7 linked regions of the Homo sapiens genome follow. The protein of the gene in region 1 interacts with the protein of each later gene in a biochemical or structural test. Each region holds a gene or a part of one and is shown on either strand. Other genes may lie near its edges.

The links.
Region 2: the proteins of SLC6A3 (region 1) and ARHGEF12 interact in a test that uses a peptide from one of them, tested with the Homo sapiens proteins (one large-scale study listed by IntAct).
Region 3: the proteins of SLC6A3 (region 1) and RAPGEF6 interact in a test that uses a peptide from one of them, tested with the Homo sapiens proteins (one large-scale study listed by IntAct).
Region 4: the proteins of SLC6A3 (region 1) and MPP7 interact in a test that uses a peptide from one of them, tested with the Homo sapiens proteins (one large-scale study listed by IntAct).
Region 5: the proteins of SLC6A3 (region 1) and DLG4 interact in a test that uses a peptide from one of them, tested with the Homo sapiens proteins (one large-scale study listed by IntAct).
Region 6: the proteins of SLC6A3 (region 1) and SNTG1 interact in a test that uses a peptide from one of them, tested with the Homo sapiens proteins (one large-scale study listed by IntAct).
Region 7: the proteins of SLC6A3 (region 1) and PDZRN3 interact in a test that uses a peptide from one of them, tested with the Homo sapiens proteins (one large-scale study listed by IntAct).

The regions. Positions count from the first base shown.
Region 1 is NC_000005.10:1,417,941-1,421,440, reverse strand, and holds part of SLC6A3 (sodium-dependent dopamine transporter), read left to right. Parts: intron 1-737; coding exon 738-872; intron 873-3,500. UniProt on the Homo sapiens protein: Mediates sodium- and chloride-dependent transport of dopamine. Also mediates sodium- and chloride-dependent transport of norepinephrine (also known as noradrenaline). Regulator of light-dependent retinal hyaloid vessel regression, downstream of OPN5 signaling.
Region 2 is NC_000011.10:120,479,413-120,482,912, forward strand, and holds part of ARHGEF12 (rho guanine nucleotide exchange factor 12), read left to right. Parts: intron 1-547; coding exon 548-1,018; intron 1,019-1,847; coding exon 1,848-2,164; intron 2,165-3,500. UniProt on the Homo sapiens protein: May play a role in the regulation of RhoA GTPase by guanine nucleotide-binding alpha-12 (GNA12) and alpha-13 (GNA13). Acts as guanine nucleotide exchange factor (GEF) for RhoA GTPase and may act as GTPase-activating protein (GAP) for GNA12 and GNA13.
Region 3 is NC_000005.10:131,460,730-131,464,229, reverse strand, and holds part of RAPGEF6 (rap guanine nucleotide exchange factor 6), read left to right. Parts: coding exon 1-189; coding exon of another isoform or gene 190-193; exon of another isoform or gene 194-617; intron 618-2,141; coding exon 2,142-2,525; intron 2,526-3,500. UniProt on the Homo sapiens protein: Guanine nucleotide exchange factor (GEF) for Rap1A, Rap2A and M-Ras GTPases. Does not interact with cAMP.
Region 4 is NC_000010.11:28,296,565-28,300,064, reverse strand, and holds part of MPP7 (MAGUK p55 subfamily member 7), read left to right. Parts: intron 1-3,500. UniProt on the Homo sapiens protein: Acts as an important adapter that promotes epithelial cell polarity and tight junction formation via its interaction with DLG1. Involved in the assembly of protein complexes at sites of cell-cell contact.
Region 5 is NC_000017.11:7,200,628-7,204,127, reverse strand, and holds part of DLG4 (disks large homolog 4), read left to right. Parts: intron 1-60; coding exon 61-120; intron 121-311; coding exon 312-436; intron 437-534; coding exon 535-704; intron 705-798; coding exon 799-935; intron 936-1,080; coding exon 1,081-1,225; intron 1,226-3,500. UniProt on the Homo sapiens protein: Postsynaptic scaffolding protein that plays a critical role in synaptogenesis and synaptic plasticity by providing a platform for the postsynaptic clustering of crucial synaptic proteins.
Region 6 is NC_000008.11:50,698,407-50,701,906, reverse strand, and holds part of SNTG1 (gamma-1-syntrophin), read right to left. Parts: intron 1-3,500. UniProt on the Homo sapiens protein: Adapter protein that binds to and probably organizes the subcellular localization of a variety of proteins. May link various receptors to the actin cytoskeleton and the dystrophin glycoprotein complex.
Region 7 is NC_000003.12:73,618,442-73,621,941, reverse strand, and holds part of PDZRN3 (E3 ubiquitin-protein ligase PDZRN3), read left to right. Parts: intron 1-3,500. UniProt on the Homo sapiens protein: E3 ubiquitin-protein ligase. Plays an important role in regulating the surface level of MUSK on myotubes. Mediates the ubiquitination of MUSK, promoting its endocytosis and lysosomal degradation. Might contribute to terminal myogenic differentiation.

The sequences.
Region 1 (3,500 bases):
CTTTGGGAGGCTGAGACGGGCAGATCACCTGAGGTCAGGGGTTCAAGAACAGCCTGGCCAACATGATGAAACCCCATCTCTACTAAAAATACGAAATTAGCCAGGCACGGTGGCACGTGCCTATAATCCCAGCTACGTGGGAGGCTGAGGCAGGAGAATTGCTTGAACCCAGGAGGCGGAGGTTGCAGTGAGCCAAGATCATGCCACTGCACTCCAGCCTGGGCAAAAAGAGCAAAACTCCATCTCAAAAAAAAAAAAAAAACTTTGGTTGTTATATGGGCCAAAACCAGTTTTGACCAAGATACGACTCCTCCCTTGGAAAAGTGCGTGTAGTATGGCACCAGCCACGGGAGCCTCCCGCAGGGACACAGCCCAGAGCAGCCCTTCATCGTGCCACAGTGCCGTTCACCAGTGTGAATCCACTCACGTCCCACGCATCAGAAAACCCCCATCAGCCACTCCCAGCTACTCTGGCGGACCGAATGCAGAAAAGGAATGTGCTTTCCCTGCCAAGTTGTTCTTCCCTTTCCATCCCTGGGGAGGGTGTGCAGGACAGAAAGTGTCTGACCTTCTCACTCCAAGGAGCATTTGCTGAGCTGGCGTCCCAGGAAATGTTTGGGAATTGGGCCTCCCAATCAGAGGACAAGCCGTCAGGGCAACCCGGTGCCCTTGTGCCAGTGTCTGCTCCCACCAAGGGCCCTGCCTGTGCAGCCTGGTGACACTGTCCTCTCCTGCAGGTGGTATGGATCACAGCCACCATGCCATACGTGGTCCTCACTGCCCTGCTCCTGCGTGGGGTCACCCTCCCTGGAGCCATAGACGGCATCAGAGCATACCTGAGCGTTGACTTCTACCGGCTCTGCGAGGCGTCTGTGAGTACAGTCTGCTCACTGCTTCACAGTCCACAGGGGCTCTGGCATTCCCAGGTTTCCATATGCATTGCCTGCCAGGGCTGAGAGGTGTCAGAGTTGCAGACACCAGGGTTCTTTCCTCGGGAAGCCAAATCCCAAGTACCTGTGATACAGCACGAGTCATCTAAATCAAATTACATCAGAAACTCCATCTAGACTCAGGCTGCAGCTTTGGTCAGCAAAAGAAGACATAATTCAGGGTTAAAATATTTGGAGAAAGCCTCCCGGAGAGAGGAGACTCAGCTGGGCCATGGGGGATGGGACCCTTGTCCAGAAAGGGAGGAGAAAGGGCTGCACCCTTCCTGGCAAACAGGCCCAGAAACAGAAGCAGCTGTTGGCGGAAGGCTGGCATGACAAAAATGGCAGCTCCCTTGGGGCATCGTTGGAAATCAGGTGGACTAAGTGGGGGAGGTGGCAGGCCCCAAAGCCGCCCAGGGGCATCCATGTTGCTGTGGGAGGACAATGCAGCAAGAGGGGAAGGGCCATCTCAGCTGGGGTATGAGGCAGGAGGCCGTTGAGAGGTGCTGCCCTGTGTGGGTGGGCCGGTGGAGCCAGGTCTGGGGGTCATGAGGCAAGTGTAAACCCAAGGCAGAAGTGGGAAGGAAGGGGAGAAGGGATGGGCGGGCATGGCTGCAAGCCTCCCAGGAAGCCCCAGGGAGGCAGCAGCTGACAGGTGCAGTGAGAGAGGGCACCTGGACATGGCACCTATGAGGCTGCAAAGCAGTTGGGTGGGGGTGGGGGTGGAAGTGTGCCTGCAGCACTGAAGGGGAAGCCCTGTGGAGACAGGAGCCATGGGTGCAGCAGGCGTGTGGCCCACGGGAGCCAAGGAAGAGAGAGGAGGACAACCAGGGCAGCAAAATCAGCTGTGGCCGGGGGCCCACAAGTGCAGAGCTGGAGCCAGACAAACCATGAAGTCAGCAGGGCGTCTGGACCCCAGAAAGGCCAAAATGAAGCCAAGGGGTGTGTTTGCAGGACCATGGCATGTTACAGAATCAAAGAAAAATACCACAAGGACAACGTAGAGCCTAGTGCTCCAGCTAGGAAGAATAGGCAGCCCCAGGAGGAGGCAAAACAAACACCAGTGCATGTGAAAAGATGCTCACTGGAGAACAAATTACAAAGATGAGATGTCAGAAATTAGGTGGAGACAGTGAATAGATTGGATGGATGGATGGATGGATGGATGGATGGATGGATGGATGGATGAATGCTAGGTAAGTAGGTGGATAGGATGGATGGATGATAGGTGGGTAGATAGAATGGATAGATAGGATGGGTGGATGGAAGGCTGGCTGGCTGGATGTATGGATAATGGATGGGTGGATGGAGGAATGGATGATAGGTAGGTAGCTGGATAGTATGGATGGATGGATGATGGATGGATGGATGGATGGATGAATGGATGATGCATGGGTGAATGGGTGGATGAATGATAGGTAGCTAGATAGGATGGACAGATGGATAATGGATGGATGATGGATGGGATGGATGGGTGGATGGATGATGGGTGGATTGCTGGATGATGGATGGCTGGGTGGATGGATGAATGATAGGTAGGTAGCTGGATAGCATGGATGGATGGATGGATGGATGATGAATGGATGATGGATGGGTGAATGGGTGGATGAATGATAGGTAGGTAGCTAGATAGGATGGATGGATGGATGGATAATGGATGGATGACGGGTGGGTGGATGGATGATGGGTGGATTGCTGGATGATGGATGTTTGGGTGGATGGATGAATGATAGGTAGGTAGCTGGACAGCATGGATGGATGGATGGATGATGGATGGGTGGGTGGATGGATGGATGGATGGATGATGGGTGGATTGGTGGATGATGGACAGATGGGTGGATGGATGAATGATAGGTAGCTGGATAGCATGGATGGATGGATCGATGATGGATGGGTGGATGGATGGATGATGGATGGGTGGATGGATGGATGATAGGTAGGTAGATAGGATGGATATACAATAGGATGGATGGAGATAGATACATACACACACATGTACTTCATATATTCATAGATGATAGACAGTTGATAGATTATAGAGATGACAGATAGATGATAGATTGGTGATGGATTGATAGATGACAGTGATAGATGATAGATAGATAGATGATTGATTGATAGATAATAGATGATGGATTGATGTATAGTGAAGAGAAATCAGGAAAGAAATGGAAGGAAAGGACAATTGCAGGTCCTGGAGTGAAAGTGCATGAGGTGAGGCCCAGGGAGGCAGCCATGGGCACTGGCTCTGGTGTGGCACTGGGCAGAGGCCTGAGCTGCACACACAGATCAGGGTGAGGAGGAGGCAGGCGCTCCCCTGTGACACCTGATCCAGCCTGCAGCTACCTGGCCAGGCAGGTGGCTGATGACCAGCATGGGAGCCACATCAGGGTATGAGCCTCTCCACCCACTGCCCACCCAGCCACTCTCGGCTTGGCTCCTCCCCTCATGCTGAAACACTGGCCACCTGCAGAGTCCTGACTGCGGGGCCTGGCCATCTGCCTCCAAACACACTGTCCCAGGAACTGGGGTTGCCTTGAGGCTCTGACATGCTGCCCAAAGGACAGAGGG
Region 2 (3,500 bases), on another chromosome or scaffold:
ATCATTGTCTGGGTGACCTCATAGCATACACTTGGCCCATTCAAAATTAAATTGGTTCTTATTTTCAGTAAATGTATGTATCTCATAAAATTAGAGGAAATAATATGCATATAGTGTCTGGATCTGGAAAAAGCAGAACTTTTTTTTAGCTTTTTCTGTCTAGCTTAACACAGCCTTTCAACATTCTTAAGAAGTACCTTTAGGGTATTATTCTAGTTATATAGAAGAAAAAATAGAGGCATGATATTGGTTATTGAGGAGTTCTAAATAGTAGTATCTCCCTATTCAGAATGCTTAGATCTTTTCAAGTTTAGTTTAACGTTAAATCTTCTCTAAAAGATGGTGCTTTATTTCATCTTCAAAACAAAATGGAAAATGATTGTATGAAGTAAGATGATTGTATGAAATTAATAATTAACATTTTAATATGTCATTAAAAGATACTTTTTAAAGATAGATCATTGGTAAGTCAGCTAATTTAATTCTTGCAGCCTGAGGTTATAGTTGTGAATATGTTTTTTTTCCCCCTCCTTCCTAAATCGTTTAGTGGGTTTGTTGAAGCAGTTGCTGGTGCAACAGCTAGGTTTGACTGAGAAGAGCGTTCAGGAAGACTGGCAACATTTCCCAAGATACAGAACAGCCTCTCAGGGGCCGCAGACAGACAGTGTCATCCAGAACTCTGAAAATATTAAGGCCTATCATTCTGGTGAAGGACATATGCCCTTTAGAACTGGAACTGGTGACATTGCAACTTGTTACAGTCCACGGACTTCAACTGAATCTTTTGCTCCACGGGATTCAGTGGGACTGGCACCCCAGGATAGCCAGGCAAGTAACATTTTAGTAATGGACCACATGATTATGACCCCAGAGATGCCTACCATGGAGCCAGAAGGGGGTCTTGATGACAGTGGAGAGCACTTTTTTGATGCCCGTGAAGCACATAGTGATGAGAATCCATCAGAAGGTGATGGAGCAGTTAACAAGGAAGAGAAGGATGTTAATTTACGCATCTCAGGCAAGTATCTTTCACACTTAAACTTTGATTTTGATTTTGATCATTGTTAACTGTCCTGTATTTTGAAATGGATGTTGTATTGGTATCCAGGTGTGTGTGTGTGTGTGTGTTCACACATGTGCAATATTTATTCCTTCATTTGATAAATACTGAATCTACTCTGTACCAGACCTCATCATAGGTGCTGGGAGATATAGCAGTGAATAAAACACAGAAAAATCCCATCTTCTCATGAAGCTAGGGGAAAGAAGGATGGTAAATAAGTAAACAAATAAATAGACTTCAGGAAGTATTAGGAAGAAACATAAGTCAGACTGAGGGGACGGAGAGTAATGAAGGCAAACAGGGTGATCAGGGATTAGGACCTCCGATGAGGTAGCATTTGAGCAGAGACCTCAATGAAATGAGGGAATAAAGCCGGGTGGGTACCTGGGAGCTTACTATTCCAGCAGAGAGCAGAGTGGGGCAGAGGCTTTGTGTCAAAGAGCAAGCTTTTTGTGGTGATCGAACACTGGATGAGGGAGACAATGGCAGGAGATGGGGCAAGAGAGGCGTTTGGCAGGGGAAGTGGTAGCAAGATCATTTAGGCACTGTAGTTTCCAGCTTTAAACTTTTGAAATGAAATTTTTTGGAAATTACCATGAAAGTTTGCAGAGTTTAGCTTTCATCTGAAGTGAGGAAATTCTGATGTACCTGAAACTAAACTCAGGAATTAATGGCTTTTCCCTCTCTTAATAACTTTTCAAGTTGAAGTTGTCAGCACACTATGCTATTTCTGTTTTCTAATGGCAGCACTGGTCTTATCAAACTATTCTGTCTCTATCCATAGGAAACTATTTGATCCTTGATGGCTATGACCCAGTGCAGGAGAGTTCCACAGATGAGGAGGTTGCTTCCTCACTTACCCTGCAGCCCATGACAGGCATCCCTGCTGTGGAATCCACCCACCAGCAGCAACATTCTCCTCAGAATACTCACTCCGATGGGGCAATTTCACCATTCACCCCCGAATTTCTGGTCCAGCAGCGCTGGGGAGCTATGGAGTATTCCTGTTTTGAGATCCAGAGTCCCTCCTCTTGTGCAGATTCACAGAGCCAGATCATGGAGTACATTCATAAGATAGAGGCTGACCTTGAACACTTAAAGGTACCTCATACTTCCACATCCATAGGACTTGGTTGTAAGAAACATTTAGCAGAGGGGAAGAATAGGGTGATGAAAATGCTGATGTCAATAAACTTGTTCAGGTTCTAGATTTCTTTGACTATTATCCATGAATAGGCCTGGGTAAAAAGTTGAGATTGGCATTGTTTATCTTTTTCTTTCTTTCTTTTTTTTTTTTTTTTTGAGACGGAGTCTCGCTCTGTCAACCAGGCTAGAGTGCAGTGGCGTGATCTCAGCTCACTGCAAGCTCTGCCTTCCAGGTTCACACCATTCTCCTGCCTCAGCCTCCCAAGCAGCTGGGACTACAGGCACCCGCCCCCACGCCCAGCTAATTTTTTGTATTTTTAATAGAGACGGGGTTTCACCATGTTAGCCAGGATGGTCTCGATCTCCTGACCTCGTGATCCGCCTGCCTCGGCCTCCCAAAGTACTGGGATTACAGGCGTGAGCCACCGCGCCCAGTCGGCATTGTTTATCTTTTGACTATCACAAGAGCAGAAAAAGTTGCAGCTCTGTGAACTGTGTGTTTGTATGGGTGTCTAAGTTTAAGAACCTGAAATGCTTCGGGTAGTTGGCTGGCCTCTGTCAGACATGAACAAGAAGATGAGATAGGTAGGGTTTATGTAGTTATGAATCTAGGCTGAGAAATGCTATGACTTTCTGTAGCCTATTATCTGTGACTCATTAGGTGACATTGGCAGCTTCCCAAATCCTATGACAGATAGAAATTGGCTTCAGTGGCTCCTGTAATCTAAAAACATGGTCATGCATGGGATTTTTGTAGATTGGTAATTGAAGATGTCACTATTGCAAAACTGACTTGTGTGGCAATTTCCAAGAGAAAGACCTATCTTAAAGTTTTCCATCAGAGGCAGGGCACGGTGGCTCACGCCTGTAATTCCAGCACTTTGGGAGGCAAGGCAGGCGGATCACGAGGTCAGGAGATCGAGACCATCCTTGCTAACACGGTGAAACCCCGTCTCTACTAAAAATAAAAAAAATCAGCCAGGTGTGGTGGTGGGCGCCTGTAGTCCCAGCTACTCAGGAGGCTGAGGCAGGAGAATGGCATGAACCTGGGAGGCGGAGCTTGCAGGGAGCTGAGATCACGCCACTGCACTCCAACCTGGGTGACAGAGCGAGACTCTGTCTCAAAAAAAAAAAAAAAAGTTTGCCATCAGAAAACACAGCTTCCAGAGCCCAAACATTTTCCTCATGACATCATTTACACCAGAGACTTGAGGGGTAGATTTAAGTATCCTTAGCCTTTGAGTTAAAGACTGGTCTCCCTTAGTTTCTCTTTTACCTTCATATAATTGAT
Region 3 (3,500 bases), about 130 Mb from region 1:
CATTATCATCAGTAAAGACACCACAGCTAAAGAAGTAGTTTTTCATGCTGTTCATGAATTTGGTTTGACCGGTGCATCCGACACATATTCTCTCTGTGAAGTTTCTGTTACTCCTGAGGGTGTCATAAAACAGAGAAGACTTCCAGATCAGTTCTCCAAATTAGCTGATAGAATTCAACTCAATGGAAGGTGAATAAGCTTATTAGTGGATGTGCTTATTTGTAGATGTGCTTTTGAAGATTTCCTGTTAAAACAGCTATTGTAAGTAGAAACATTATCATGTTTTAGTGCTCCTAAATTCACTCCAGAAGACGCTTGATAAAATATCTTGTCACTCCTGCTAAAATAAACTCTTAGAACCACTGATATAATCTAGTTCCTGTTTTTTTATAGAGGAAGCTGAATGATACAAATCTTCATATATATCTGAATGACTGTATCTACTAATTTATAAATTTGTTTTTAATATGGCCAGTATGTACTTTGGCAAAAGAAGCCATGGTTTTCACAGTTCTTTTTCTAAGTAGTTTTCCTTTAATGAATATGCAGGAAAATTTTAAAAATTTTAAAATGTGTTCTGAAAATTATTTAATAAACTAGATTATTTCTGTAGTACATTTGTTCCTTACTCTGGTTTTTTTTTTTTTTTTTGAGATGGAGTCTCCCTCTGTCGCCCAGGCTGGAGTGCAGTGGCGCGATCTCAGCTCACTGCAACCTCCACCTCCCAGGTTCAAGCGGTTCTCCTGCCTCAGCCTTCTGAGTAGCTGGGACTACAGGCACATGCCACCATGCCTGGCGAATTTTTGTATTTTTAGTAGAGACGAGGTTTCACCGTGTTGGCCAGGCTGGTCTCAAACTCCTTACCTCAAGTGATCTGCCTGCCTCAGCCTCCCAAAGTGCTGGCATTACGAGTGTGAGCTACCACACTCAACCACTCTGAGAATAATCTTTTTGGTAACCCAGTTTCATATGTAGAACAAGATCCCTAGAAAGCTTACAGTGACTGCATGCCATGGTTGCTGTGAAATGAGAATGAGTTAACTCTGTTTTGCTGGCTGTACATAGTGGTTAAGAGCATAGACCCTGGATTCAGATTGCCCACATTCAAATCCCAGCTCTGGCTATGTGACCTTGAGCAAGTCATATGTAGCTTCTCTACCTGAATTTCCTCACCCATAAAATGAGGATAGTAATAGTAGAATATACCTCATGGGAATGTTGTAAGGATTAAATGAGTTACTAAGTATACCATACCTTATAATGTTAAACATTATTATATATAGCATAATGAGTTTCAGCACTATTATTTATGGCATTGTCTTAGGCATATGAACAGTCTAAAAGCAGAAAAAAGAGTTTCTTGACAGTAAAAAATAGATGGATAGATGGATACAAACTTAGGCTTAAATCAAGTTGGATTATTAGAAAAGAACGAAGTAAAAGCAGGTGATACATTACCTCGTTTCCTTAGTAACATCCCTGCACAAGATGTTTCCTGTCTCTTACTTTTAAGTGCTGTAGAATTGTTGATTTAAGAGAAGAAAGCAAAATATAGGTCTTAATGTGTGGTAACTGATAAGTGCCACTTGCTGGAATGAGGTTTTGTATTTAACAAGGGAGAAACCATTAGTGGAAGTGTTTCCCCTCCTCTGTAGATTTCATTCCTCTTGCTTCACTTGGAAATTTATTTAAAAAGGAAGTGAGTGGAGTAACTTCTGAATAGAGATTTTTAACCGTCTTGATTCAGGAATTTATTTTGCCTTAATTAGAATTCATGCTATTCATAAACAAATATTTACATAGTACCAATCCTCTGTCAGATAAAACAGTAAGATAAAAGCTTTACGAGGGCAAGGCCAGTACCTAAAATAGTATCTGACAGATAGTTTCATAAAATAATTAAGTTCATGACATAACAACATTATTTTTACTCTTTAATAGATGCCAGTTGGTAGAATAAGAGACAGACTTCTCAAAAATCTTTTCATTTAAAATGTTAACTTTTCATTTTATCTGTAAATTAATATTTTTGGCTAAAAGTTATTAACAGTAAAATGATATTTTACAACGACAAAAAGGAAAAGTGCTCTTATTTAATCATATTTATGAATACATTTATTTAAAAAAATTTTTCCATTTAGGTATTACTTAAAAAATAACATGGAAACAGAAACCTTATGTTCAGATGAAGATGCTCAAGAACTAGTTAAGGAAAGCCAGCTATCCATGCTGCAGCTCAGTACCATTGAGGTGGCCACCCAGCTGTCAATGAGGGACTTTGATTTGTTTCGTAATATTGAACCGACTGAGTACATCGATGACCTTTTTAAGTTAAATTCCAAAACAGGAAATACTCATTTGAAGAGGTTTGAGGACATTGTAAACCAAGAGACATTCTGGGTTGCCTCAGAAATTTTAACTGAAGCAAATCAGCTCAAACGAATGAAGATTATTAAGCATTTTATTAAAATTGCACTTCATTGTCGAGAATGTAAGAACTTCAATTCCATGTTTGCAATAATAAGGTAAGTTGGTACAAATAGGTACAAATGTCTGTATGGTTTTGTCATTACATGCAGCTGATTTTCTACTTAGGTATTCAATGCCTATGAAAAGAAATGTTCAATTAATATGCCTTTATTGAAGTGTTGTTAGATTTAATGTATTTTCCATTTTGGTGGTATTGGCTTTTTCTATTTTTGTTTCTTCCATCTTTCTTTTACTTCTTTTTTGTAAATGAAAGTGGGTGATTGCCTTCTAATTTTTCTTTCTCTCCCTTCATCTCCAACCCCCCGCCTTGAGTGATTATATCATCTTTGGATATGTGCCCAGTGGCTGGTCTTTATCATTAGACTTCTGTACTGTGCTTTTTTAAGTACCTGCCTCACTATGATTTGACTCTGAAAAATCACAGTATGGTATCAGTACTTTGACCTAAAGTTGCTATTTTGAAACAACAACATTGATAATAATGGCAACCATTTGGTAAGCTCTTCCTGTTTGCCAGGCACTACATGAGGTTCACTGGATGTGGTGTTCCTCAAGCAAGTTAGGCTGTTAGAATAATAAAAATGTTTTGACATTCATAAGCCCAGGAAGTGTAGATAATTACGTGAGCTCTCCCACTCCCTTCTTCCCACTTATTATGAAAAGTTAATTGTAGGTAATTTATTTTCTGATCTTTATTTAGCACACTGTAGATCAACAAAGGGATTCTTCTTAAAACAAGTTTAATTTTAAAAGGGAGAGGAGTTGTAGTTAGCTCCATTTTTAAGGCCATGATGTGCTTATAAATCGCAGCATAATTCCACTTGAACTAATCCTACCTATACACATCCCCCACAGAATTCATAATGATTTGTTTCTACTCCTCATGTAGATTAAGATTAAAAAGTAGAATCTTTATAGGGACTCTTTATTCATGACCCTGTCATGGTAATAGGATGTGCCTTTATTAAATTAACCAGTGTCTACAACTGAACTGAACACTCTAGGAGTAT
Region 4 (3,500 bases), on another chromosome or scaffold:
CCAGGCATGGTGGCTCACGCCTGTAATCCCAGCACTTTGGGAGGCCGAGGCGGGCGGATCACAAGGTCAGGAGATTGAGACCATCCTGGCTAACACGGTGAAACCCTGTCTCTACTAAAAAATAGAAAAAATTAGCCGGGCGTGGTGGTGGGCGCCTGTAATCCCAGCTACTCGGGAGGCTGAGGCAGGAGAATTGGCCTGAACCCAAGAGGCAGAGCTTGCAGTAAGCTGAGATCGTGCCACTGCACTCCAGCCTGGGCCACAGAGCGAGACTCCGTCTCAAAAAAAAAAAAAAAAAGTCTTGAATTTTGTTAAATGAGATACATTCGGAAGGAAAGGGTATTCCTTCATTTTGAATTTAAAGTGAAGGAAATTGTTAGTCAGGCTTGCTCTCTGAAGATACTGTGTTTTTTACAAACTGAAGGTTCGTTGGCAACCCTGCAAGTCGATTGGTGCTATTTTTCCAATAGTGTATGTTCATTTTGTGTGTCTCTGTCATATTTTGGTAATTCTCACAATATTGCAAACTTTTCATTGTTATTCTGTCTGTTATGGTGATCTCTGGTCAGTGATCTTTGATGTTACGATTCTAATTGTTTTGGGGCTCCATGAACTGCACCTATATAATATGGTGAACTTAACTGATAAATGTTACATATGTTCTGATATCTCCACCAACTGGCCATTCCCCAACTCTCTTCCTCTCCCCAGGCCTCCCTATTCCCTGAGACACAACAATATTGAAATTAGGCCAATTAATAACTCTACATTGGCATCTAAGTATTCAAGTGAATGGAGAGTCGCGTGTCTCCCACTTTAAATCAAAAAGCTACAAATGAGTGAGCTTAGTGAGGAGGTCATGACAAAAGCTGAAACAGGCCAAAAGCTAGGCCTCTTGCACCAAACAAGCGAGCTCTGAATGCAAAGGAAAGGTTCTTGAAAGAAACTAAAAGTGCTACTCTGCTGAACGTCCAAATGATAAGAAAGTGAAACAGCCTTATTGCTAATATAGAGAAGGTTTTAGTGGTCTGGATAGAAGATCAGACCAGCCACAACATTCCCTTAAGCCAGCAGAGCAAAACCCTCTCTTCAATTCGATGAAGGCTGAGAGAGGTAAGGAAGTTACAGAAGAAAAGTTGGAAGCTAGAAGAGGTTGGTTCATGAGGTTTAAGGAAAGAAGCTGCTTCCCTAATGTAAAAGTGCAAGGTGAAGCAGCAAATGCTGATATAGAAGCTGTAGCATGTTATCCAGAATATCTAGCTAAGATCACTGATGAAGGTGGCTACACTGAACAACAGATTTTCAGTGTAGATGAAACAGCCTTATATTGGAAGAAGATGCCGTCTCGGACTTTCTTAGCTAGAAGGAAGTCAGTGCTTCACCTCAAAGGCCAGGCTGACTCTTTTGTTTGGAGCTAGTGCAGCTGGTGACTTTAAGTTGAAGCCACTGCTCATCTACCATTCCAAAAATTGTTAAGCGTCATGCAAAATCTACTCTGCCTGTGCTCTATAAATGGAGCGACAAAGCCTGGATGACAGTACATCTGTTTATGGCGTGGTTTACTGAATCTGTTAAGCTCACTGTCGAGACCCACTGCTCAGAAGAAAGGGTACCATTGAACAAGTGCTGCTCATTGACAATGCACCTGGTCACCCAAGAGCTCTGATGGAGATGTACAAGGAAATTAATGTTTTCATACCTGCTAACACAACATCCACTCTGTACCCATGGATCTAGGAGTCATTTCAACTTTCAAGAGTTATTATTTAAGAAGCACATCTTGTAAAGCTATAGCTGCCATAGATAGTGATTGTTCTGATGGATCTTGGCTAAGTAAATTGAAAACCTGGAAAGGATTCACAATTCTAGATGCCATTAAGGGCATTTGTGATTCAAAGGAGGAGGTCAAAATGTCACCATTAACAGGAATTTAGAAGAAGTTGATTCCAGCTCTCATGGATGACTTTGAGGGGTTCAAGACTTCAGTGGAAGAAGTACCTGCAGATGTGGTGGAAATAGTATACTGAGAACTAGAATTAGAAGTAGACCCTGAAAATATGACTGAATTGCTGCAATCTTATTATCAAACTCGAATGGATGAAGAGTTGCTTCTTCTGAATGAGCAAAGAAAGTGGCTTCTTGAGAGAGAGTCTATTCTTGGTGAAGATGCTGTGAGCATTGTTGAAATGACAATGAACGATTTACAATATTCTGTAAACTTGGTTAATAAAGCAGTGGCAGGGTATGATAGGATTGACTTCAATTGTGAATGAGGTTCTACTGTGGGTGAAATGCTACCAAAAGAGAGATCTTTTCTGAAAGGCAGAGTGAGTTGATGTGGCAAACTTCATTTTTTTTATTTTTTTGAGACGGAGTCTCGCTCTGTTGCCCAGGCTGGAGTGCAATGGCACGATCTTGGCTCACTGCAACCTCCGCCTCCCAGGTTTAAGAGATTCTCCTGTCTCAGCCTCCTGAGTAGCTGGGATTACAGGTGCACACTGCCACAGCTGGCTAATTTTTTATATTTTAGTAGAGATGGGGTTTCACTCTGTTGACCAGGCTGGTCTTGAACTCCTGAGCTCACGCAGTCCACCCACCTCAGCCTCCCAAAGTGTTAGGATTACAGGCGTGAGCCACAGCGCCCGGCCTTATTGTTTTCTTATTTTAAGAAATTGCCACAGCCATCCATCTTTCAGCAGCCAGCACCTTGTTCAGTCAGCAGCCATCAACATCAAGGCAAAATCCTCCACCAGCAAAAAGATTATGACTCCCTGAAGGCTCGGATGATCACTAGCATTTTAAAAAAATTATAAAGCATTTTAAAATTAAGAGCTAATGCTATTGCCAACATAATAGACTACAGTATACTGTAAATATAACTTCTATATGCACTTGGAAAGCAGAAACATTTCTGTTACCTTATTGCAGTGTTAGTTTTACTAAGGTGGTCTGGAATGGAACATGTGATATCTTCAAGGTATGCCTACGATTTCAGAAATAACCTCTCCTATTGAACCCTCTGATTCTTCCTGTGTTCAGAAACCCAGACCAAAGTGTAGATTTATTGGTCTTTATTTATGAGTAGTTGAATTTTTTTAATGTCTTGTGTTTTGTTTAAATTTTATGTAAACTGCGGCTTAGCTCTTTCAGCATAGTCTTATGCTTTGCTTTCTTAGATTACTGAGTCTTTAAAAGAACTGGTAAAGTGCATATGTGTGGAAAGATTATTTGCTACCTACTATGAACAGATACTTAAGTAAAAAAACAAAAACAAAAAAACCCAAGATGTTTTTTCCAGGCATATAAATGTTTTTTTCTTGAAGAGGCATTTAGTCTTTCTATTTACTAGAACATTATCAGCTTGCTTTACTTATGAAAGAGAGGAGACCATTCTTTTCTCTGTGAATTTAGGAGCTATTTGTCAGGCTTGTTTATTACTGATTGGGTTGCTTGTTACTGATTGTTAGAGAAGGGAGATGAAAATACATAGCAGTTGCGAT
Region 5 (3,500 bases), on another chromosome or scaffold:
CGGGCAGGTGGTCAGACAGGAATGTCTGTCTCACTGCTTTTGTGTTTCTGTCCCGTGCTGGAGTTGCAGGTGAACGGGACCGAGGGGGAGATGGAATACGAGGAAATCACATTGGAAAGGGTGAGCAGGCTCCTCCATCGGCAGTCCCCGTGGCCTCCCGTCTGTACCTTTCTTTCTGCCATGTGGTCTGGGTGGCTAGCCCCTCACCCTGTGCCTTCCTCCTCTGGCTGCTCCAAGCCATTTCCCACCCCACTTGCCTTGCCAGACTTGGGCAGTGAGGGGAGCTGACCCTCTTCCCCTCCTTCACCCAGGGTAACTCAGGTCTGGGCTTCAGCATCGCAGGTGGCACTGACAACCCACACATCGGTGACGACCCATCCATTTTCATCACCAAGATCATTCCTGGTGGGGCTGCGGCCCAGGATGGCCGCCTCAGGTGGGGAGAGGAGACAGGGGTTAGGTTGCTTGGTCCCTGGAGAGGGAGGGCCAGGGCAGCAGGAAGCTCTTGGCTCAGGCCCACCTTGCTGCTCCCAGGGTCAACGACAGCATCCTGTTTGTAAATGAAGTGGACGTGCGCGAGGTGACCCACTCAGCGGCGGTGGAAGCCCTCAAAGAGGCAGGCTCCATCGTTCGCCTCTATGTCATGCGCCGGAAGCCCCCGGCTGAGAAGGTCATGGAGATCAAGCTCATCAAGGGGCCTAAAGGTAGTAACTCATTTTGTTCCCACCCCCATCCCAACTGTCCTGTGCCCCCAAGCCTGCTTCCTGGGCACCCACCTCTGGCCTCCCCTCCATCCAGGTCTTGGCTTCAGCATCGCAGGGGGCGTAGGGAACCAGCACATCCCAGGAGATAATAGCATCTATGTAACAAAGATCATCGAAGGGGGTGCTGCCCACAAGGATGGGAGGTTGCAGATTGGAGACAAGATCCTGGCGGTGAGGACTCCATCTAGCCCATTTTCTAGCCCAGATTTGGGTCTCACCTACTAGCCCTGGCAGGCCCAAGTTCATCACTTCACCCCAGTGCTTCTGTCTTGGGCCATTTGTGGCTTTGTCTGAGCTTTGCTTTCCTTGACTCCAGGTCAACAGTGTGGGGCTAGAGGACGTCATGCATGAAGATGCTGTGGCAGCCCTGAAGAACACGTATGATGTTGTCTACCTAAAGGTGGCCAAGCCCAGCAATGCCTACCTGAGTGACAGCTATGCTCCCCCAGACATCACAACCTGTGAGAGCCCTTCAAACACCAAAGTTCCCCATGACCCATCCCGTTTAACCCATGACATGCAGTCCCACGACATCCCTGTAGCTGTCCCTCTTCAGATATTCCCTATGAAATAGCCACAACCTCTGATCCTTGCTGTTGTTGGAGAAGAGATGGAAAATCAATTACCATAAAAGAACTAGAAAAGATCGTCAACGATCTCTCTCCTGGAAGGCACAAAGCCTGGTTGGTTTTATGGCTAATTTTGTGAAATTCTCAAGGAATAGATAATTCTTCTGCTCTTCCAGAGTACAGGAAAAGATAAAAGATTTCACATTTCATTTTATAAGGCCAGTTCGAATGGTCACAAGGATAGTGTAAAATAAGGAGAGTATAGACCCGTTTTGCTTCTGAATAGAGATACAAGAGTTTACAATAATATAGTAGCAAAGCAAACATGGCAGCATGTTAAGGGAATAACATAGGGTTTGTTTCAGAAAACTAAAGATGGCTCAATATTAGGAAATCTCTTAATATGATTCATATATTAAAACGTTACGGGAGGCTAAGTGTGGTGGCTCATGCTTGTAATCCCAGCACTTGGGAGGCCAAAGTGGGAGGATTTGAGACCAGCTAGGGATTTGAGACCAGCCTAGGCAACAAAGCGAGATCCTGTCTCTAAAAAAATTAAAAAAATTAGCACGTGCCTATACTCCTTGCTACTTGGGAGGCTGAGGCTGGAGGATCGCTTGAGCCGAGGAGTTGGAAGCTGCAGTAAGCCAATGATTGCGCCACTGCCCACCAGACTGGGTGACAGAGCGAGAGGAGAAAACGATGTGATTATCTTAAATAGACGTGAAAAAGGCATTTGGTGAAATTCACCATCTCTTTTGGATGAAAGCTTTTAGTAAACTAGGAACACAGAAATTTTCCTTAAGATGGTGAAGACTAGTTATCAGGAACCAGTAACAAACATTTTATAATGATACAATTTTAGCAGTGTGTCCATTAACTTATTTTTTAATTTAATTTTAATTTTTTTCTTGAAATGGAGTTTCGCTCTTCTTGCCCAGGCTGGAGTGCAGTGGTGTGATCTCAGCTGACTGCAACCTCTGCCTCCCAGGTTCAAGTGATTCTGCTGCCCCGGCCTCCCGAGTAGCTGGGATTACAGGTGCCCACCATCACGCCTGGCTAATTTTTGTAGTTTTAGTGGAGACAGGGTTTCACCATGTTGGCCAGGCTGGTCTCGAATGCCTGACCTCAGGTGATCTGCCCTCCTCGGCCTCCCAAAGTGCTGAGATTACAGGCGTGAGCCACCGCGCCCGGCCTCCGTTAACTTACAAAGAGGGCAGGGATGCCTCTTCCCACTGCTATTATTCTTCATTGCTTTAGAGCAGGGTTTCTCAGTGTTACTCCTGACATTTTTGGACCCAATAACTCTTCATTGTGGGGGGTTGTTCTGTGCCTTGTGGGATATTAAGCAGCATCCCTGGCCTCTGTCTATCAGATGACAATGGTACTCCTCCCCCTCAGTCATAACAATTAAAAAATGTTATGACAGAATTGCCCCAGCGAAATTATGGTGGTTGAGAATCACTGCTTTAGAGATTTCAGACAGTGTAACAAGACAAGGAGAATAGTTACATTTGGAAGGGAAAAACAAAAGTTATCTCTATTTGTAAATTATACTACTGTGCATCTAGATCAAAATCTAAGTGAATTAACTGGAAAAATATGCAAAGTTAAGAATGTGGCTATTTGTTGGCTGGGCGAGGTGGCTCATGCCTGTAATCCCAACACTTTGGGAGGCCAAGGCGGGCGGATCACCTGAGGTCAGGAGTTTGAGAACAGCCTGGCCAACATGGAGAAACGCTGTCTCTACTAAAAATACAAAAAAAAATTAGCTGGGTGTGGTGGCGAGCGCCTGTAATACCAGCTAATCCTGAGGCTGAGACAGGAGAATTCCTTGACCCTGGGAGGCGGAGCTTGCAGTGAGCCAAGATCTCACCACTGCACTCCAGCCTGGGCGATAGAGCGAGACTCCATCTCAAAAAAAAAAAAAAAAAAAAACCAAAACAGGCTGGGCGCGCCGGTGGCTCATGCCTGTAATCCCAGCACTTTGGGAGGCCGAGATGGGTGAGTCACCTGAGGTTGGGAGTTCGAGACCAGCCTAACCAACATGGAGAAACCCCATCTCTACTAAAAATACAAAATTAGCCGGGCATGGTGGTGCATGCCTGCAATCCCAGCTACTCAGGAGGCTGAGGCAGGAGAATTGCTTGAACCTGGGAGGCGGAGG
Region 6 (3,500 bases), on another chromosome or scaffold:
TGCATTCCAGCGTGGGCAACCAGAGGGAAACTCCATCTCAAAAAGAGGAAGAAGAAGAGGGAGAAGGAGGAGGAGGAGGAGGAGGAGAAGAAGAAGAAGAAGAAGAGGAGGAGGAGGAGGAAGAGGAAGAGAAAGAAGAAGAAGAAGAAGGAGAAGAAGGAGAAGAAAAAGAAAAAGAAGAAGAAAAAGAGGAAGATGAAGAGGAAGAGGAAGGCAAAGAAGAAGAAGAAGAAGGAAGAAGAAGAAGAGGAAGAAAAAGAGGAGGAAGAAGAAGAGGAAGAGGAACACGAAGAAGAAGAAGAAGAAGAAGAAGAAGAAGAGGAAGAAAAAGGTATTATATCACAATAGATTGAAAAGCTAGAGAAATGTTCTCTAGGAAGTAAATTTTAAACAGTGGCTGAAAACGAGTAGAATATCAAAGATAAAGTATAGAAAAAGGGTGTTCTTTCCAGAGAGTGGATGGGACTGGCTGGGGCCAAGTCAGGCATTTCAGAAATTCAAAGAAAAGGAGGCAGAAACATTGAGAGCTGAAGCTAGGGAAGGACATGGGATGATTGATCTGGTTATAAATTTTGGACTTGAACACAGTATAATGACAAGCTACTATAGCAAAAATTTTAGTATGCCCTCTCTTTATACTGCAGATATTTCAACATCTACCTTAGCTTTTTAAATTGATAAATTGGCAAAAATCTATAACTAAACGTTGCAGTTTCCAGAAACCTTGCCAATTTTATGGTTTATTAAATTGCCCTTCATTTTCCTTATAATAAAAAATATTATCTAATGTCATTATTAGTCAGAAAATTTTGTTATTTTTTCCTTTTCATAAATCACATGTAGCAATAGGATCTTAAAATGGACTTCATGTAAGATTTTCTATTCTCTTAGCAAAACTTTACTCCTTTGCTCTTTTAAAACTCAATTTAAGATCTTCTGTTATATTACCCAAGTCGTGACTCTCTCTCAGACAAAGCATCCTCTAATCAACTCTGCAAATATAGTTTCAGCATCTCTGAAAACTTCTTGCCATTTCCTGTTGTTATTTATAATATACTTCTCATGAACTGACTCACACTGCAAATGGCATCTGAGCACCCAGGTCTCATTTTAGTGAGGGAGAGAAATATGTTAAAATAACGAGCATATGACAGTGCTATAGAGGTAACATGCTAAGGAAGCAGAATAAGGAACGATAAATCATCTTGAGGGAAAGTAGGAGGGGGAAAGTTGTATTGTAGGGAGAGACTGTAGTACCATCAAGGACTTAAAGACAAATGCAAGAGCAACCTGGTGCAAGCCTGAAAAAGACCAGGTGATCCTGCTAAGAAATTCATAGAATGCACCTGCCAGGAAAAGATATTGGAGAGTTAAGTGAGAAGGGGGCAGCATAGACTCTAAGCTTTAGATGGCTAAGAGTGGATGGGTGGGAGGAGGAGAAACTTTGGAAAAAGCAGGGGTTCCTTTATCAGAAATTTAGTGAAAAGTGACTATAGCTCAATCATTTTAAAGATCTACTTTCAACATAATCATCTAAAATCATTGACACTAGATTTCTTTTACTAGAGTTTCTACCTTTGCTGCCTATAACATTTCAAAAGATTGTGTTCCTTTACGGTTGCAGTCATTATCAAGTTATATGCAAGTAATAATATATATATAACTAACTGAAAAACTAAATAAGATACTCTTAGAGACTGGCATTGACTAGAAGTATTAGTATAATAAGGAGTATTTACACGATTATCCACATAGGTTTAAATAAGAATGTATATATTCCTCTTTCTCACCCTCATTCTCTCTCTAACACACATGCAGGAGCTGTTATAAGGTGATAAGAACAAAAGTTCTAGCTTCAGAATTCTGTCTTGATTTGAATCTCCTCTCTTTTATTTATTAATAGGTAATCCTTGTCAAGTTGATTACCATATATATAGCTTCCTTCACTCATCACTAAAGTGGAAATAATTAATTGATCTGATGATTAAATAAGATACTATATTTAATTCTTTGCTTAGTATCTAATACTTGGAAGTACTTAATGTTGGAAATTTTTGTTGTCAGTATTGATTCAATAAAATAAATACAGATAAATATTCGTATCATTTCCTAACTTGCCTTCTATGGCTTGCTCTCTGCATGCATTTCTCTTTTGTCATAGTTTGACTTATGCCCCAGTAGAAAGAATAGCCTCCAGAATACTTTTTTGCCAACTGGAAAGTATCATTTAATAATAGTAATGATAATAATAATAGCTAAACATATCAAGAACTCATCAGTTGCATTTTTCTCAATTTTCTCACTTCTCCAGAAGTATCTTCTATTTTGTTAGATTTGTTCCAAGTTCTCTCAGATTTATAAAGCAATATTACAAAGAAACAACAGGTTTTTTTTTCAAGATGGCTGACTAGATGCTTTTCCAGGGTACTTCATCCACTTAGAAGAATGACAATGGTGTGTAGACAATCACACTTTGCACATATGAAAGCAAAATCAAATATTGGGACCCCAAACTCACTATACCAAAGGGCTAAGTTTAGGTAGTTAGTCATGAAAAAACTGCCTTCCTTTCATTCCCAAAAAGCTGTAATTTCATGTTTACTTTATGTAAAATGTAGCTTTTCTGCTCATTAGTAAGATCCTCACAAGAATGTGACCACTTATCTCATTGCCTACCCAGACTTTTTTTCTTTCTTCCTCTTCCTGCTTGCTTTTTCCCTGTTAAATATTGAAGTTCCCAGAACCCTTTTTAAAAAAAAGCACAGGGTACAGATCTCCTTGTGATTTGTGTTTCTTTTTCCCAGGCATGTTCTCAACCTTGGCAAAATAAATCTCTAATTGATTAAGATCCACCTCAGTAACTTTTTTGTTTACAAACATATTATCCAAGAGAGAACACAGGAGTTCAACAGTAACACACGAAGAAACTCCAAAATCTGACCAGAAAAAGAAGAACAGTCAGCCTGTGTGGCTGTGGGACTGGCTGAAAATGAGAAGAGAGTAAATTCCCAATATGGGAGAGGGTGAGTGAGTATCTTTCTGTGGTCCAATTTCCCACTATAGAATCATATAATTCAGGCCACGGTAGAGCACCATGACTTTTCTAAGCCCTAGATCTACCTTGGGATGTGGCTGGGAGACTGTAAGAAGTACCTGCTCTGGGAAGTGTCCCATGCACTTCCCGAGACCTTGGAACCTACAACAGAACACCATTCTTGATCCTAGCTCTTTGCAAGCTGTGCACAGTCCTGAAAACTAGCAGCAGTGGCAGCCTTTGTCATTAAAGAGGCTCTAACAGTATCCTGGGGATCTGGTGCTCAAGCAGGGAAGAGGTTCCCACAGCCAGAACCGAGAATCAAGTATGGCATGGGCTCCAGCCATTGGCATGCTGGAACCAGGCTCACCCCATCTTTCACTTCACCCCCTTCCCCCACCAGTACAGGAGGGGATTTGTTTGGGAGGCATAGTGTTGGGCTGTGCAGTGACTCCTAAGGCCTGGG
Region 7 (3,500 bases), on another chromosome or scaffold:
CTTTCTGGAGTGTTTGGGTAAAATCTCCCTCAGAGTCAAAAATATGATACTTGAATCAAAACTGTGGATGTTTTTGAGGCTCTGTTGAGTTAGTGGGTAGCATAAAGAAGGATGTTAAGCTTAGAGACAAGATGTTGATTTTGAACTTACGGAGAAAGGTTTGTTCCGGTGTTGGAGCCCTGCTTGGAACTTTTACCAACCTCAGTGCCAGCCTTGAGAACAGCAAAGGATGGTCTGGCCCAGAAGCTGCCCTAGATAGTTTCCCTGGCCTCAGACCCAGCCTGGCCTCAGCTGAGGCCTTAGGGAAGCTTGCTGTCTCTCCTTGCCCCGAAATTAACCCTCAGTGGCCCTTACTGAACGCTTTTGCTGTTCCTGGGTCAACCATAAAACTCCTCCCATTGGAAGCTGTTTAAGAACTTGTTTATTTCATTGGGCCGGCTCTCTGCTCCTGCTGGGTACTGTTTATTCTCTTCTAAAAGGCAGAAGGATTTATATGTCCTGGAAACTCTCATGTGCAACATTTTTATTTTCTTTTTAAAATAAGCCCTAATGTTTGCTTCTCTGTTATAAGCTGAAGGAGATTAGAAACACTCAGATTTTCAGTACCAGCTCTTCAGCAGCCTAGAACTTGCACAAATGATGTGGCATTCTTTAAATTATCTTAGGTTTCAGTTTTTTTGACACCTGCTGAACGCTTAGGGTTTGTTAGTGCTGTACCAGCATAGACGTTGTCTCTTCTGTTCTACCATGTGAGCTATATTAAGGATTCTCAAGCCTTAGCGTGATTGGAGTCACTGGAGAGCTTAACACAGATTCCTCAGTCTCACCCCTAGAGATTCTGATCCATTAGGGCTGGCCAGGGGCCTGATATTCTGCATTTCCAATGAGCTCCCAGATGATGCTGGTCCTTTAAGTAGCCGCTAAGCTAGACGAAGAGCTTACGCTCAGGTAGATATAGACCAAACATGTATTGGTCTTCACACAGTTATGGTTTCACTGGTCATTGTCTAAACACCTTCCTAAATTTCTTAAGACCAGGATAAAATTTTAAAACCCAGACTGCCTAGGCCGGGCTCAGTGGCTCACGCCTGTAATCCCAGCACTTTGGGAGGCCGAGGCAGGCGGATCACGAGATCAGGAGATCGAGACCATCCTGGCTAACACGGTGAAACCCCGTCTCTACTAAAAATACAAAAAATTAGCTGGGCGCGGTGGCGGGCACCTGTAGTCCCAGCTACTCGGGAGGCTGAGGCAGGAGAATGGCGTGAACCTGGGAAGCGGAGCTTGCAGTAAGCGGAGATAGTGCCACTGCACTCCGGCCTGGGTGAAAGAGCAAGACTCCGTCTCAAAAAAAAAAAAACAAAAAAAACCCAGACTGCCTAGCAGTTAAATGACAGGTAATCATAGCCTAGACAGGCATCTCTGATCTCACTGAGGCCACATCTGAGCTGCAGCAGACTTGGGATTGCTACACTTGAGTGAGTTAAAGAGTTCTGCTCCCAGCCTCAGTTTCCCATCCTGACTTACCCCCTGATTCTTAGAGCAAAAGCACTCCAGAGCAAACATCTTTTTTGCTTTTCTTTCTGGGAAAGGAACAATTCTGGACATAACTTTCCTTGGATTGATTGAAAAACTTGAGATACATCCTCGATACCTTTTGTTCTTTAACCTCCCATCCGGTCTGTCTTTGAATCCTGCGGATTTTACCTCCTAAATACATTTTGAATCTATTCACAGCTCTCCAGCTCACTCAAATGACCACCGTGGTCCAAACCAGAGTTTCTGAATCAGCACTGCCAACATTTTGGAATGGATAATTCTTGGGTGTGGGTGTGTTGTTGGTGGTGGTGGTAGTGGTGATGGGGGTGGGAGGCTGACCTGTGCATTGTAGGATGTTTAGCAACATCCCGGGCATCTACCTACCTACCTACTAGAGGCTAGTAGCGCTTTCCAAGTAGTATCAACAGTATTTGTGGACATTGCCAAACGTCCCTTGAGGGGCAAAATTGGCCTTTGTCTCAGACACTCTTGCCTGGACCATAACTCTTTCCTCTACAAATCTTCTTGCTCCTCTTCAATTCCTTCTTTACCTAGCATCAGGAATTAATCTCTTATAAATGTGTATCTTTTATCACTCTCCCTCAAGCCTCCTATGCTGTCCCATTTCTCTTGGTTGGCTATAAGGTCCAACATGCTCTGGATCCTACCGGCTTCCACCTGCCTGGATTCTTCTCCCCTTCATCCTCTTCTTTCAGCTTCTCATGTCTCTGAGAGTCGATGCATGTGCCCCTGAGCTCCTCTCTGCCTCCAGGCCTTTGCACTTGCTCTTCTGTCTACCTGGAACAATCTTACCAAGTACTCTGCACTAAATAACCTGCAAAATTTCCACTTCTCTCCTCTTGCCCACAGCCTTTCTGTCTGCACTTAGGATTTGCTTATCACTAGACAATGGTTCTTTCTATTCTCATCTCAGCTGAAGCATCACTACCTCTAGGAAGCCAGGCCTCTCGGACCTCGCAGACTACATCTGGTGCCCTGAGACTCTTACTTTGGTTATCCTCCTGCATGGCATTTATCATAGCTGTAACTAAATAAGTGGAAGAGTCTGTCTTGTCCAGTACCATGTCTGTGGCACTAATCCATTGCCATGTGCACTGTAAGCTCTTGATATGTATTCATTTGGTGATGAGTTCAAGATTGAAAGGCCTGTCTTGGCAGTCATCAAAACTTTTCAGGTTGCTAACCAAAAGTGGGCTCGTGTTTAAAAAGAATGAGTTTCTCCGTGATGACCCAGTTAACAAAATTGTTTTCAGGTTTAGGGGAGGCATTATTTTTGTTCCACTAGATCCACCCAGATCAAGTTTTATAAAGCCCCAAATCCTAGAAACTATTTTGTCCTTTTCAGAACTGGAAATAAGTAAATCTGATAGACAATTGTATCAAAAGGTGTTCCAGATGTCCAAACACTTTGAAATGTATCTGTTAGAGTATTCACCATGAAGTATATTTTGTTTCTGAAAAGCTCCTGCACAGGGCCATTCCATAGTATATCTAACAAAACAGCGCACTTCTGCTAAAAAAAAGTTACAGATTGTCACTTCTATTTCATTTCTGTGATTTATAAGGAAAATTAGGATTTGTTTTACAAATATGTTACCCAGCTACACTGGATTAAATGAGTATAACCAGACAATTTGAATTGGCAATTCTGTTGAGATTTGTCTGTAAGTGGCTCTTTCTGTGTTCAGAAATGGTGCTTGCCTCGCTATAAAAATATTTGATGAGTAAGAATCTATTTATAAGGCAATTATGCATTGGACCGTAGACCAAGGAGCTTAAAAGAAAAGAAAATAATATTCATTGAGTTCCACTGGGTGCCATACACTTAAGGTGCTTTCTGTATGTGCATACATTATCTTCTCCATGTTCTTCATTAGATAGACCTCTTTTTTTAATGGGAGTAGCAGATTATGAAAGATTAAGGCTAGAAGTTAGATTCT